Regions from separate parts of the Homo sapiens genome. Here region 1 is linked to region 2. The links come from fine-mapping of genetic effects on gene expression. Tissue or cell type: tibial nerve. Region 2 holds a variant in brackets; the other region holds the start of a gene. All regions are shown on one strand. Distances are between the middles of the regions.

What was found. PIP is the estimated chance that this variant, and not a neighbour inherited with it, causes the effect.
Region 1: SLC1A7 starts here. The variant in region 2 is fine-mapped to the expression of SLC1A7 in tibial nerve (GTEx, PIP 0.98).

The regions. Positions count from the first base shown.
Region 1 is chr1:53,139,788-53,144,787 of GRCh38, reverse strand. SLC1A7 (solute carrier family 1 member 7) reads left to right here and starts at 2,150. Exons shown (of 11, transcript NM_006671.6): 1 at 2,150-2,473. The coding sequence starts at 2,339.
Region 2 is chr1:53,082,495-53,087,818 of GRCh38, reverse strand. PODN (podocan) reads right to left here. Exons shown (of 11, transcript NM_153703.5): 11 at 2,325-3,306. SLC1A7 (solute carrier family 1 member 7) reads left to right here. Exons shown (of 11, transcript NM_006671.6): 11 at 1-636. Among named protein-coding and RNA genes, the nearest start is that of PODN, 23 kb to the right of the region's middle. The variant T/C (reference allele first, on the strand shown) is at 2,198.

The DNA of each region.
Region 1 (5,000 bases), 57 kb before region 2:
GGTTCTGACCCAGGAGACTTGATTTGATTTGCAAATATTCTTAGTAAACTCATTATCAGTCACTTACACTTTAGTGTGAATTAGTCCGTTCTTGGGGTCTCTCCACTTTCTTATAAGCTTCCTGAAGGCAGGGCAGGTACTGTCTGATTCACTGTTGTGTTTCTAGTACCCAGGGGGTGTGGCACACTAAATGGTGCTATAAGAACATTTGCTAGAGTGAGTTGAAATTCTCCTGTTGAAGACCGTAGGAACAGTGGAAAGAATGGCTGTAGTCTGGTAGGCAGGTAGTGGTAGGCTCAGCCTGTGGGAGAGAGGAGTCAGTGGTGGCTATAGGGCACGTCCTGGGAATGGGAGTCATGGAGCTGTGGTAGAAAGCAAGACTCACCTATATCATGGCACAGCTAAAGGCCAGGTCTGGGCTGGGTGTGGTGGCTCATGCCTGCAGTCCCAACACGTTAGGAGGCCAAGATGGGAGGATTGTTTGAGCCCAGGAGTTGATCAAAACCCAAATCCAAATACCTACTTAGCATATTTTCTCTTCTGGGAAGTAACTAACCACCTGATTATTTGGAAAATGAGGCATTTGTTGGAGTTGAAGGTGTAGCAAGAAACTTTTGGTTTTAAGAGTCAAAGTCAGAGGAAAAAAAACTCTCAGACTTGTATTCACCCCCACCCCCCACCCCAAGCTACTGCAAAGAGCAGGGGCTTTGGAAGATTGGTTTGTTGAAATGAAGTTCCTTTGACAAAGGTACCTGGGCCCATTTCTCTCATTCTAAAAAGGACAAGACTGATACCCAGAGACGGCAAGGTCACAGAGCTGATTAAATTGGGATCAGAATCTTCTCAGTCAGGAGCTCTGTCCATGGCTTCAGAGCCTGTGCCCCAGTCCCCTCTCCCCACCTCTCCCCTATGCCCCACTTGGCCCGTCCTCTTCATCCTCTGCCCCTGTCTCCTATGTCAGGAGGAGGAAGCCCCTGTGTGCACCCCACCCTTTACCTCCCACCCTCACTGCAGACTGCACTTCCCATTCCCTGCTGCCTGCTGCCTGACTGCTCCTAATGAGATTACAGATCTCTGGTGAAATAGACGAGGGTTAATTCCCCCAGGCTTTACAGGGCAGGGCAGGCCAGGCCACAAGAAATAGCAAAAAGACACCTATTCTCCAAAGCACTAAGTGTGATAATGACCCTAAGAGTCCGTTCCCCTGTTCAGCACACCAGGGTTCACACTGCGTTTCCAAATACCCTCTGGGTGGAATTTTGTACCAGCCCTAACAAAGTAGATGCTGTTATCATCTCTATTTTACAGATGGAGAAACTGAGGCACAGTGAGATGAAATGCTTGTCTGAGGTCACACAGCTAGTAAGTGGCAGAGCTGGGACCCGAATGTGGGTCTCTTGGGCTCTGTCATCTTTAAAAAATAATAGGCCCAGAGAGCCTGCAGGGTGCCCAGCACCAGGCTTGAAACAGCCCTGAAGCATCTACGTCCCATTTCCCGGTGAGTGGCACAGCCCACCTTTGAACTCAGGTCCCCTGGACTCGAATCTACATTCCCCACAATACTGCCAAGCACCCTTGAACCTATCTGCCTGTTCATGTGGTGGAAACAGACTGGCCTAGCCCTGACTTCTGACCTCTGTGACCATGGCCAAGGGACTGGCTTCTGGGGTCTCAGCCTCCCTTTCTGAAAAATGAAGGTGGGAACCCTGGGATCTTTGGGACAATTCCCTATGATTGGCATAGCTAAGGCAGCCAGCACAGGCCTGGCCCGCAGCACATGCACCCACCCACCTCAGTTTCTTTATCTGTAAAATGGTGATATTAATAGTACTTATTTCTTGGGATTGGTGTTAGGATTAAATATGCCAGTACATGTAACACTCTTCTAGAATGGCACCTGGTGCATAGTAAATGCTTAATTAATGTTGAGGGAAACTGATATCTTACTGTCTTGTTTTTGATTCTTTCTGGAAGGAAGCAGGGGTAAAGATCAAACCAACCAAGCAAATGTTCCTCTTGTTCCTTCCAGTACCTGGTCCACTCAACTGTTTAAGAGGAACGCTTGGCTTTGAGGCCTGAACTCCTAGACCACGTGGTCTGCTCTAATTTCCCAGGCCCTAATCTGCTCCCAGCTCCTAATGATGCAGCTGGTAATAGGATTGTGGCTTCCCTCTAAGGCGGCCACACGGGCATGGCCGTGGGGCTGGCGACTGGTGTTTAGCAACTCCGACCACCTGCCTGCTGAGGGGCTAGAGCCCTCAGCCCAGACCCTGTGCCCCCGGCCGGGCTCTCATGCGTGGAATGGTGCTGTGCCCCTTGCCAGCAGGCCAGGCTCACCATGGTGCCGCATGCCATCTTGGCACGGGGGAGGGACGTGTGCAGGCGGAATGGACTCCTCATCCTGTCTGTGCTGTCTGTCATCGTGGGCTGCCTCCTCGGCTTCTTCTTGAGGACCCGGCGCCTCTCACCACAGGTCAGCCACCCAGAGCATCTCGGGACCCCTGTCCAGGAGGGGCGTGTGGGCCTGAGGGATCTGGGGTCCCGTTCTAGCATCACAGCTCCCTGGTGCCATGACAGTGTGTGAATCCCTCTGCCTCTCTGGGTCCTGGTTTTCTCATCTGTAACATGGGTGTGATAAACACTTTGCAGGACTAGAGGGAAGAACCAGTGATGTGGCTGGGGAGTGATTACAAACCCAGCACCATCAGGTGAGGAGAGGCGAGGGTGCCTCATGATGACAAACACAGGGCCAAGAGCTGTGGCGGGGAAAGAGGGGGGTCTTGTGTGAGTTCAAACAGGCACCAGAGAACACCTCCTAAAGGCTGCTCAAATGACAAGAGATCCAGGAAGCGTGCTCTAGGCAGAGGTGACAGCAGATGCCAGGTGCAGCGGCCGGAGCGCAGAGGCCAGCAGGCCCATAGGTCCCATCGCCACACGTGGGCTTGCGGCAACCATGAGATGCTTTTGGGCAGAAGAGCGACAGGCCAGTTTGGAGCTTGGGAGACCCCTCAGGTGCTGAGTGGAGAGGGGGTGATTCTGGGGCAGGCAGGGGGCCGAGAAGGGGCAGCCTGGGGGAGATGCGGCAGTGCAGACAAAAGGGACAGACGTGAGAACTGTTTTCAAAAGGGGGAGCTTCAGGATGTGGGGGCCGATTGGATGTGGGCTGGGGGACAGGAAGGGGAGCCAGGCCCCGGGTTTCCAGCCTGTGTAACTGCCATGAAGAAGCTGCGTTTCCTGGGAAAGAGCCCCTTTCCCTGTCAGCCCCCATCTCCTACAGGAGAGGGAGGGACATTCCCATGGTGTTAAGGACAAAATCATTCTGCCACTAGTTAAACTGGTAAGGAAGGCTCTATTCAGGACTATTGTGGTAGGGGGGTAGTTATCAAGACCTCCTGGGGAGAGAGATGGGACCCAACCACAAATACAACAAAGATGGCTGGAGATTTATAGCCAGCGAGCAGAGGGAGGGGGTCGGGGACAGAAAATGACTACAGGAGACATCAGGGTAGGGGGATTCTTGTTGAAGGCAGGCCAGGGTGATCAGACATTGATCTGGGATGAGGAATTTGATCCAGTATCAGGATGCTGGAGGGTGAGGGATCCTCACTAAACTGACTTGGCAGGACTTTTGCTACAGCTGGACTATGCAGGCTGAAGACAAGGCCCAAGGACAAAGCCCAGTGGAAAAGAGGGCTCAGAGGAGCCTGTCTAAAGTGTGGTCAAGGAGAGAGGCTTTGTCAATGGGCTCCTGGAAGAGTCCCTATTCCCAGAAAGTCCTCTTCCCGCAGCTCACTAATGTCTAATGCCATCTCTACAACTGGGGTCAGGCATTAGACTTTGTCTTCCATTAAAAGGAAAACACCCACTCCTGGAGAACTGAGCCACGACTATAGTGACCCTGTTAAGCCTCGAGCAGTTATTTAGGAAGAAGCATGGACTCTGGAGGCAGAGAAACCCTGAACTTTGACTCTGCTAGCAAATGGCTAGGCAATATCCTCTCTCCTCCCTGGGCCTCAGTTTCCTTGTCTGTAAAATGGGATGTGGGGCAGTATATGTCTACTAGAATTATTATGAGGAATAAACCAAGGATTCATCAATGCCCAGCATACAGTAGGTGCTTACTACGTGTTACTTCCCCCTCCCTCCCTTATGTACCTGTTAAAGTCCTATCTACATCAGGAACCATCTCATCATCCATAGCTGATGAAAGTAACTGTAACCCCGCTGCTGGCTGCCTGGCTTCAGAGCTGGTTATATGGGTGTCTCTTTCTCCCACCAAGCTGCATATTGCTGAACAACATATGGGTTTGTTTTTTTTTTTAACCAAAACGTGAGCCTAGCCCTGTGTCAGGCACAGAGAGAACGCTCAACTATCTGCTGCATTAAACTGGCAATGGAACAAAAAAATCTGCAATCTGTTCTCTTTAATTTTCCTCAGCAACAAAAATATATCTCCTGCAGGAAGATTATTTTGTGAAAACAAATTGGAATGCCTATTATTAAAAGCCAAACTCATCTGGGGCCTACTTTGCCAAAGCTGCCTTTCCCATCTGTTTGGAAATGCAAATGTATTCCAGTCTGGATTAACCTGCCAGATAAATTGAAGGAAGGATGTAGAGGCTTAGAACAATTATTTGGCAGAAACTGGCTTTCTCAGCATCTTACTTTGAAATCTGGGATTTCTCTGTTTGATCTCTTTGCCTGTGACTCAGAAACTAAACACTTCTTGTTTTGTAAGCTTATGCAACAGGCAAAAATCATAAACAATATGGAAAATGGTAGAATGTTCTATTTGTGAAAAAGAACTTTTATCCTTGATAAAATCACAGGATTTTATCTTGGTGTATGAGTGTCTCATTTAAAAATACTGAGCATTTTGAGACTTCCAGTTAAACCATGGTGAATCACAGGTGTATCCATTTTTTTCCCTCCTTCCTAGAATTCCACTAACATTTTAGTAATGGGATTTTTAAAAGGTAAAACCACCAAGAATAAAGAGA
Region 2 (5,324 bases):
CCATCTAGGGAGTGATGGGCCCGGCATTGCCTGAGGCCCCGCTGTGACAGTTTCCCCGGTGTGAGCCCGGTGAGGGCGGCAGGCAGGGGTTATCCGGCCCCACTTTCTGGATGACAGACTTGAGGCTCTGAGAGCTGAAAACACTTGTCCAAGGTCTCACGTTAAGGTCAAGACACTAACTCAAATCTTTCAAGCCCCGCCTCTCCTCTTGGAGGACAGGGCAGCCTGCAGCTGTGTCCAGGCCCAGGCCCCACCCCATAACAGGTGGCCTCAGCCACACAGTTCTCCCCAAGGGGAGCAGCCCAGGGCCAAGCCCCGCTGCCTTCCCCAGGCCACAGTGCGTCCAGTCTCCTGTCCTGCCACGTGTCTTTTGCAAAGCTCCTTGGATGTGGAGACAGATGTCTTTACTAGAGCTGAAAGGCCCCCTTGACACATCCAGGCCAACCTCCCATGGAATAGGTAGGCAAGCCAGGACTCCGGGAAGGAGGTGCAGCCAGGATGCTCTGGTGGAGCTGCCGATGGGGCCCTGGTGTCAGAACTCCCCAAAGGCCTGTGCGTCCAAGTGGAGTCAGGTTTTCTATTCCTTTCTGTGTTTGCAAATTCAGTGTTAACTAAATAAAGGTATTTTGTTTTTCACTTCTTGTGGGCTTCAACACCTTATGCTAGCCAGCAAATATGATATTAGCTACTGGGCTAATTAATACAGGCGGCCAGAGTGCAGACGGGCCTGTCTGGGCAGCCAGGATATGGGCGGGCCTATGCAGGTGGCCAGAATCTAACAGGCTTGTCCATTTGGCTGGAGTGTAGACAGGTCTGTCTAGGCTGCCAGTGTGTGGACAGGCCTGTATGGGCAGCCAGAGTGCAGAGAAGCCTGTCCTGGTGGCTGCAGTAAGGACAGTCCTATCTGAGCTGTCACATGCAGAAGACAGAGTATAAGCTAGCCTACCCAGGAGCCTGTCTCAATAACCACAGGGCAGCTGGGCATCGTCCAGTGTGGACAGACCTCTCTGCCATGGTCTAGGCTCTGCTCTGCAGGCAGGGCCTTGAGATCAGTCCCCAAAGAAGAAACAGATTTCCTTCCCAGTCTGGCTCCCCGTGGTGAATGCTTTGCTTTAGACAGGGGCGTGCCCAGGGACATTTCCAGATGGTCTCCCTCATTCTCACACCCCAGGCTGCCTCCAGGAGGCCTGCAGGGCACACAGAAGGGCCCTGGCAACACAGCCTGTTCCAGATATGCCTTGGGGAGAAGATACAGCTCTGGGGTCTGGAGGGGCTTGCACCATGATGCCCTTGAAGACACTAAGGCCCAGGGAGGGGACAGGCCTCCCCCAGGTCACTCAGCGTCAAGAGGGCACCTGCTCCCACTGCCCCATTCCTGAACTCCTTCCACCCTCCTCCCAGGGGTGGAGTGTGAGGAGTCTGGGAAGAGCACGACCCCAGGACACCTCCTCCCACTGCAGGGCTGGGGGCTGCAGGCCTCCACGAGAGCATCCTTCCTTCCCTGAGGCCTCCTCACCTGGGAGAGGTCAGATGTCATGCAATCGGTCATCCCACCTTCATGCAGACAAGCTTAGCAGCCCCTTCTAGGTGTCACATCTCTAAGACCCCTTGAGCAATCGAGTCTGTCCCAGCACAAGGCAGGAGTCTGCTCTTTAGTGGACTTGGCAGGAGCATCCTTACACACCTCCAGCAGCAGGGAGGTCACCACTTCCCGAGCATCTCAACCCACAGTGGGGCAGCTCTGCCCATCAGAGGCTCTTCTTAGCTCAGAGCTGGGTACCACCTCCCGGTGGCAGCTCTCCCACTGGGGTGGGAAGCACACTGGGTGCATCTGTTAGCTCTTTCCTGGAAAGGTCTGCGGAGACCTGGGCCCCCAAGTCGGCTCTGCTCCAGCTCCCAGGCCTGCCTCCAGTCCCCTGCTCTCCTCTAGAACCCACTAGTAACACCCTGTCAGTGCAAAGGTGACCCATGACCCTCCAGGTGAGCCCTTAACAGGCCCAAAGCCCATGAGGTCCTTTGCTTGGATGCTCCACCTCTGGGAATGCACAGCAAGCTCACAGGCCGCGTGTGCTGGTTCAGGCCTCACCTACTATTCCCGAGTGGGCCATCTGCACACACCTCAGGCCCCCTCGCCTGAGGCTATGCCCTGTTCTCCCAGGATGCCTGCCTGTGCAGCTACTCTGCGGGCCCCGAGAAC[T/C]GGACTTTCCACTGATGTCTGCTGTTCTGGCCAGGGCGCTGAGGGGCTTGTATCCTGCCCCCTCCACCCGGCACCAGGCCAGCACCTGGCAGGAAGCAAGCACAGACATAGCCACAGGCTGCAGGGATAGGGATAATGCTTTTATATTAGTTTTTCTATAACAAGAAAAATCAGCTTTGAGATTTTTATCATTTTTTTCCTTAGAAAAGAATAAAAAATAAAGGCACCCGGAACTTCCCCCACAGGCCTGAAGAACAAAGGTGTCTCCTAGGTGCAGCTGGGTCCTTCCTCCCTGGCTCAGCCCAGCCCCATCACCTCTGCTTCACTCCTGCCCCAAGGCCCCAGCAGCACCCAGGGGGCTCTCCCATCCTGCCTCCACTGGGCTTGCCCATTGGAAAAGTGCCTGTGTCCTGCCAGGGCGTGGCAGGGAGGGACTCTTAGCAGAGTGACTGCCCAGCACCTGGAGGAGCAGGGTGGGCCAGGCCAGGCCAGCAGTCCTGAAGGCTCCTGTCCCCATAGGATGGGAAAGGAATAAAAGCCAGCTTTTGTGAGTTCCAGAGGGTGGCAGGCACCTGGCCACAGAGCATGGATACCCTTGTGTCTTCTCCAGGGAACGGACGGACAGATGGACAGGGCAGACGGCGAGCTGCTATGGCTGATTCTGGCTGGGGCAAGAGCTGTCTGTGGCATAGGCTTTGGAGGGCTGTTCGCACATGACTTGTGCATGTGTGTGTGTGTGGTGTGTATGCATACGCATACACATGTCAGCAGGGGGAGGGAATGGGTGCCTGTGTGTGCCAGGGCAGGGGCAGACCCTTCCCTGCATGATTCAGAGGGCGTGGCAGCGGTAGTGGGGGTGTGACAGAGACTGTGGTGGTTTGGAGGGTAGTTGTGTGTGGCTGAGCTGGGTGTTTGAGGGTGTGATGTGTGTGCATGTGTCTGGCCGTGGGACACGCCGTGGGAAGGGGTGGGGATATGAGACTGTGTCAGCCCGTGTCATGTGGGATGCCTCATGTGTGCAGCTGGGTGTGTCTGTGTGAGCACGGCAGAGTGGGGGGCTCACAGCACACAGGCGTGTGCTGCAGAAAAGAGTCCGGCGGTCCATCGTCCTGTGGAACATGTAAGAGAGTCAGGGGCCAGCTCAGGGCAGACCCACCAGCCCAAGCAGCCTGAGGGGACCTGCTGTGGGGAGCCCTGCTGGAGGGGGCTCTGGAAAGGCCAGGCTACTATGAGTAGGGAGGGAGCGTTGGCCCTGGGAGCCCAGAGCCAGCGGGGTGCCAGAAGGCCTTTGGGTCCCACCAGCCACTCCCCAGGGCTTCTCCCAGAGCCCCACTCAACTGACCTGAGATGGGGCAGATTCTCACCCACCCCAGGACTCCACAGCCCCTCATGAGGGCTGTGGTGTCCCCACTGGATGGCCAGTCACCCTGTCACCCACCCCAACTCTGTGTGAGGACAACACCTCAGAGAACCAGCTCTACCTTCATACTCCCGGGCCCTGGGAGCTGGGGAAGGTGACCCCCAAGCTCAGCCTCTTGCCAGCCCCTCCACACTTGCGGATACCCAACTCTGTGCACACTCTTCTCTCACCATCAACTTGCGCCCTTCTCCCAGCTCCCTCTGTCACCCACCCAAGTGGCCCTCAACAGCCCCCTCTGGTTCCTCTTCGTCCCAGGCCCTACTTCAGTCAACACTCAACAGTGGCCCGGCAGCCCCTCCCACGGCTACGTCCTGGCCCTGTGACCCCCAGCCTGGCTCACTCCTCACCAGCTCTCCTCTCTCCTCCGACCACACAGCCGCTCCTGGCTCCTCTCCAATGTCTTTCTCTGAGTCCCTGCCCACCAGCCCTCCTATCTGCACCTCCTTCCCTACCCAACCTGACCCCAGGACCCATGCCTGCAGCCAGCCTCCGGCCAACACACTCCCTTGTTCCTTGCCCTCCTGTCCTGAACTCTTGGCTGAAAAACTCAGCTGTGGGTGGATCCACCTGTCCATTTTCTCCATACCTTTGGTCTGCGGAGAACCTCCCTGCTGCACAGAGAAAACGGAAGACTGGAGGGATCCGGCTGACATGGCTTCACATCTGGCCACCAAGCCACCAATCTGCCTGTGACAGCAGCCACCCTGCCCTTTGTTCCTCCTGCTAAAGCCAGCAACTTCTACCATTCCCACAGGGGCCCTCAAAGCCAGCTCTTTCCTACATCGGTGACTCCCCCTCCAGGCCAGCCTCTTCCCACCAGCACCCAAGCCAGCCCCCTCCTTTAAGAGGGTGCGTGTGGAAGATGCATGTGTGTGTCGGGGCATCTTGCCAGAGCCCCTCACACAGGGCTCCCCTCGAGAGGCCTTTGCTTCCTGTGAGGCTCAGAAAATGAGCGTTTCCTGAACTTCACACTCCATTCCCACCTCTGCCCTCTCTCATCTCTCACAGCCAAACTTCTCAAAAGGCTGGTCTGCAGTGCCTGGACCCACTTCCTTTCCAGCTGCTCTTCTCATCCCAGCTTCCCCTGCTGCTACAAAGTCACAGACAGCCTCCAGGTGGAAAAATCCAGTGGGCGCTCCGCAGTGGTCAGCTCCCTCAGTGCTCAGTTCCCTCAGCCCCTCAGCAGCACTGACACAGCCAAGTCCCCACTTCTAGACAGGCCTGTGCATGCACGCATCATGTGTACATGTGTGCATGCAGGTGTGCATGTAAGGGCCCGTATACGTGGGTACGCATGGGTGTTTTGTGTGCATGTACTCACATGCATGTACACACGTGTGTGCACGTATGTACATAGTCTAGGCATGCAAATGTGTCATGGGGTACAAGCATGTATGTGTGTCTGTGTGCATGTGTGTGGTGTGTGTGTTCTGCCTGTGCATGGTTTGTGGATGTGTGTACATGTTGAGACGTGTGTGCACATGAATGTATGTGTGTTGGTGCATCCGTGTGCATTTGTGTGCATGTGCACATGTAGGTGCCTGTGTTACATACATGTGCAAATGCCCTCTGCCCACGGCAGTCTGGGGTTTTCCTACCTCCTTTCCTAACTGCTCTGTCTCAGTCACCTGCCCCCCTCACTCACTCTCCCATGGCAAGCTTCCCCAGCCCCCTGCAGCTTGAGTGATTGTTTCAAGGCTAACAATG